2 linked regions of the Homo sapiens genome follow. The protein of the gene in region 2 purifies or fractionates together with the protein of the main gene of each other region. This does not show direct contact. Each region holds a gene or a part of one and is shown on either strand. Other genes may lie near its edges.

Region 1 (2,496 bases), on a different chromosome or scaffold from region 2:
GTGGTCTTTTAGCCCTAAATGGTTTCCCATATATTATGCATCATCTCAATTTTATTCTCCCTTGTGAACTTGGCCCATTAGGTGGCATGACTTACAGATCTTTAATTACATTTAGGTTAAATATTCAGAGAAAATGGGACACCGTTATTAGCAAAATCGATCATTTGAGTTTTATATAATCTTGAATTGCCTTAAAGCTTTCCTCATAGGCAAGAAAATTCTAGATGGTTTCTTTCCTTAAAAAGCTCCATGGTATACTCAGCAGAAAGCACCACCCATCTGTTCAGCTAACAAATACATACCCTGTGGCAATGACTCCACCATGTGGAAAAAATGTGCAGCAAAGCCCATTGGTCATAGGAGCAAATGCAATGGGAGTTTTCAGTTCCAGGGCCCAGATCCTGAGGAGTCTGGATGGGGAGAGAGAACATCTGGATATTAGCTGACCCAGGGCCAGACCAAGAGGGCCTTGCTGCCATTACTTGCAAGCACTTGTTCTGAGGCCATGTAAAGAGAGTTCTCTTCGTTACCTGTCATCTGCCACCGTGGCAAGGTACAAGCCTTCTGGAGAGAAGCACACAGATCTCAGTGAGCTAATGTGGACGTCACTGTCATCCATGGCGGGGTCAACCTGGGTGTGGCTGGGAAGGAAAGAAACAGGATGGCAGGCCTGGAGTGATGGCTGCTCTCCACCCTCCATCATCACCCTAGGCAGGAAGCCAAACTGCCCTGGCTACAAAAGGGCTCAAGATGCATTGTGTGCCCCTCGTGGAAAAGCTTGGGATTTGCACACTGGGAAAAAAAAGGGTATCTCAGAAGGCTCCAGGTGTCCTGTGGATGAAGGGTTACTAACACTTCCTTGTGCTAATTTGCTTATGCAAAGTAGGTCAGCCCTCACTTTAATGCCACAGTAGAAACTGCAAGTCTTTTTTAGGCTAAGATACATGATAATTATAGGACTGCCTATTATTTGCTTCATAAAACAACAGACACAAAAGGAAAAAGGAGACCAAGTTTGTGAGAACATGAAACTCATTTTGGAAAGCACAGTTTCGATAAGAGGCTCTTTCTGAACTTGTTACTACAGTTATTAGTAAATGGAAATAAAGAGTCATATTGAGGCTTCATAATGCTGATTCCGAAGAAGTACACACAGCCACCTGAATCAGGAGACTGGAAGACACTCAAAGCTACTTGAGAGGGCTTAATTGACAAGGCATCACTAAGAAGCAATGAACCAGGCCAGGCGCAGTGGCTCATGCCTATAATAGCAGTTTGGGAGACTGAGGCGGTGGATCACCTGAGGTCAGGAGTTTGAGACTAGCCTGGCCAACATGGTGAAACCCCATCTCTAATAAAAATACAAAAATTAGCCAGGCCTGGTGGCGCACGCTTGTAGTCCTAGCTACTCGGGAGGCTCAGGCAGCAGAATCGCTTGAACCCGGGAGGTGGAGGTTGCAGTGATCCAAGATTGCGCCACTGCACTCCAGCCTGGGTGACAGAGCGAGACTCCGTCTCAAAAGAGACCCACTGTGCCTTTTTATCCAGCTTGTCCCCTCCCATGTCCCAGATTCTAAAAGAGACATGTCTAATCCCAGGCAGGTTCCTCATCAGTCCCCCCACAAAAAAGTCATAGCAGGGATTCAGTCCTTACTGGAGTGACCTCAGCCTTTCGCCGGTGTAGGGGTCCCACATAATCACATTGGTATCGTAAGAAGCCGTGACAAGCAGGGCAGAGTCGGGGGAGAAGTCACAAGAGACAACACTGCTTTGATGGCCCTCTAGCTTCCGAATTAACGTGTAGGACCTCATGCTCCATAGAAAGACCTGTGGAAAGTAAGAAGTGCCTGGTTAGGGCAGAAGCAAAGTGCTTAGGACTCAAACGGAGGGAGGGAAAGGTACCACCACCAAATCTGCAGGCCCTGCAGCCAGGGCTGATTCTCTATCCCTTTTCTACAGCTCTTCCAGAACGTGTGGTGTAGGTTTAAATAAGGCAACTGGTCTGGATTCTTGAGGATTTAAAACAATGGGCATGCTCAAGGAGCTCACTATAAGAGAGAATAAACCAGATCAGCCTTAGGAAGACCCCTGCTGAAACGCATGTGCAGAGACTTCTGAGTCTGCTTCTGAGTCCTGTTTGCCAATAGGGTAGTCGTATGTGCTGATGAAGACCTGAGCCAAGTGCTATCTTATTCCACTTAAAAATAAATGTCAGCGGCCAGGCACGATGGCTCATGCCTGTAATCTCAGCACTTTGGGTGGCTGAGGTGGGTGGATCACATGAGGCCAGGAGTTCAAGACCAGCTTGGTCAACATGGCAAAACCCCATCTCTACTGAAAATACAAAAATTAGCCAGGCATGGTGGTGCACGCCTGTAAGCCCAGCTATTTGGGAGGTTGAGGCAGAAGAATCACTTGAGCCTGGTAGGTGGAGGTTGCAGTGACCTGAGATCACGTCACTGCACTCCAGCTTGGGCGAAAGAGTAAGACTGTCTC
Region 2 (2,684 bases):
AAAGCTCAAATATCACATTGATTTTGGGTTGATTTTTACCAATACTCATATAGCACTTGCTATATACCAGGCAGTCCCCTAGGAGCATCACAAACAGTGACTCATTTAATCCTCACGACGGCCCTACGGGTGGGTGCTATTATTAGGTCCATTTTACAGATGAGGAAACTGAGGCACCGAGAGGGTAAGTAATTGGCTTAAGGGCACACAGCTGAGAAGCGACTTTGAATCAGTGGTGGTGGCCACATCACAGTTCTGAGATGAGTTTTTGAGGAAGATGAGCTCAAAACAGGGAGATACCCATTCCTGGGGATTTTCCTTGCCAATTGCATGAGGATTCTGGTGTCGTGAGTGGGAGTCCTGGCAGGGGAGGGAAGGGGAGGGTCCTTCAAGTTTAAGGGCCACCGCCTCAGCCAGCATCACCCACATCCTTTATCCTCAAAGTGTACAAAGGCCTTTCCAAGTGGCTTTTCATTGATCCACTCCACCCATTCATTTCGTTAATAAACATTTATTGAGCACCTACTTTGTGCTAGGCACTGGGGCTACAGCCATGGACAGAAGAGACAAGACTTATGTCCGGGGGCCAAGTGTCTGTCTGGTGGGGACACATAAACCAGGAGAGTGCTAGGTTTCAAGAAGCATCAAGGAGGCGGGAAAGCAGGAGATGGCTCAGGGGTACCTCAGACCTCAGGCCCTCCTGCCCCCATGTCTCCTTGACTCAGGAATCTTGGTCCCTGCCTGGACTATGGGGCCACCAGTTGTCTGACTGGTCACACTACTAAGGGTAGCAACTCCCTTCTACAAGTAGGGAAACTGAGGCCCAGAGTAGGAGGGGGATCCACTAGGGTGGGAGCACATTGTGGTCCTGATTCCTCTCTCTCTCTCTGTCTCTCGGTGTCTTTGTCTATCTTCATGTCTCTGTCTGTCTCTCTTGATGTCTCTTTGTCTTGTCTCTGTGTCTGTGTCTGTCTTTCTGTCTGTTTAAACCCTCACCTTGGCTGGGCACAGTGACTCACGCCTGTAATCCCAACACTTTGGGAGGCTGAGGCGGGTGGATCACCTGACGTCAGGAGTTCAAGATCAGTCTGGCCAACATGGTGAAACCACGTCTCTACTAAAAATACAAAAATTAGCCGGGTGTGGTGACAGGCGCCTGTAGTCCCAGCTACTTGGGAGGCTGAGGCAGGAGAATCACTTGATCCTGGGAGGCAGAGGTTGCAGTGAACCGAGATGGCACCACTGCATTCCAGCCTGGGCAGCAGAGCCAGACTGTCTCAAAAGAATAAAAGTAAAAGAAAAATAAACCCTCACCTTACCCTCATCCTGTGCTATGACTCTCTCTTTTTCTCTCTCACAGAAATGGGTGGGTGCACCCTTCACTGGCTCCAGCCTGGAGCTGGGACCCTGGAGCCCAGAGGTGCCCTCCACCCTGGAGGTGTACAGCTGCCACCCACCACGGAGCCCGGCCAAGAGGCTGCAGCTCACGGAGCTACAAGAACCAGCAGAGCTGGTGGAGTCTGACGGTGTGCCCAAGCCCAGCTTCTGGCCGACAGCCCAGAACTCGGGGGGCTCAGCTTACAGTGAGGAGAGGGATCGGCCATACGGCCTGGTGTCCATTGACACAGTGACTGTGCTAGATGCAGAGGGGCCATGCACCTGGCCCTGCAGCTGTGAGGATGACGGCTACCCAGCCCTGGACCTGGATGCTGGCCTGGAGCCCAGCCCAGGCCTAGAGGACCCACTCTTGGATGCAGGGACCACAGTCCTGTCCTGTGGCTGTGTCTCAGCTGGCAGCCCTGGGCTAGGAGGGCCCCTGGGAAGCCTCCTGGACAGACTAAAGCCACCCCTTGCAGATGGGGAGGACTGGGCTGGGGGACTGCCCTGGGGTGGCCGGTCACCTGGAGGGGTCTCAGAGAGTGAGGCGGGCTCACCCCTGGCCGGCCTGGATATGGACACGTTTGACAGTGGCTTTGTGGGCTCTGACTGCAGCAGCCCTGTGGAGTGTGACTTCACCAGCCCCGGGGACGAAGGACCCCCCCGGAGCTACCTCCGCCAGTGGGTGGTCATTCCTCCGCCACTTTCGAGCCCTGGACCCCAGGCCAGCTAATGAGGCTGACTGGATGTCCAGAGCTGGCCAGGCCACTGGGCCCTGAGCCAGAGACAAGGTCACCTGGGCTGTGATGTGAAGACACCTGCAGCCTTTGGTCTCCTGGATGGGCCTTTGAGCCTGATGTTTACAGTGTCTGTGTGTGTGTGTGCATATGTGTGTGTGTGCATATGCATGTGTGTGTGTGTGTGTGTCTTAGGTGCGCAGTGGCATGTCCACGTGTGTGTGTGATTGCACGTGCCTGTGGGCCTGGGATAATGCCCATGGTACTCCATGCATTCACCTGCCCTGTGCATGTCTGGACTCACGGAGCTCACCCATGTGCACAAGTGTGCACAGTAAACGTGTTTGTGGTCAACAGATGACAACAGCCGTCCTCCCTCCTAGGGTCTTGTGTTGCAAGTTGGTCCACAGCATCTCCGGGGCTTTGTGGGATCAGGGCATTGCCTGTGACTGAGGCGGAGCCCAGCCCTCCAGCGTCTGCCTCCAGGAGCTGCAAGAAGTCCATATTGTTCCTTATCACCTGCCAACAGGAAGCGAAAGGGGATGGAGTGAGCCCATGGTGACCTCGGGA

Evidence for each region.
Region 1: the proteins of IL21R (region 2) and WSB2 purify together in Homo sapiens (affinity purification with western blotting; one study listed by BioGRID). This does not show direct contact.

Annotation. Positions count from the first base shown.
Region 1 is NC_000012.12:118,034,684-118,037,179, forward strand, and holds part of WSB2 (WD repeat and SOCS box-containing protein 2), read right to left. Parts: intron 1,828-2,496; coding exon 1,655-1,827; intron 642-1,654; coding exon 531-641; intron 411-530; coding exon 303-410; intron 1-302. UniProt on the Homo sapiens protein: May be a substrate-recognition component of a SCF-like ECS (Elongin-Cullin-SOCS-box protein) E3 ubiquitin ligase complex which mediates the ubiquitination and subsequent proteasomal degradation of target proteins.
Region 2 is NC_000016.10:27,447,174-27,449,857, forward strand, and holds part of IL21R (interleukin-21 receptor isoform 1 precursor), read left to right. Parts: intron 1-495; exon of another isoform or gene 496-1,360; coding exon 1,361-2,110; 3' UTR 2,111-2,684. UniProt on the Homo sapiens protein: This is a receptor for interleukin-21.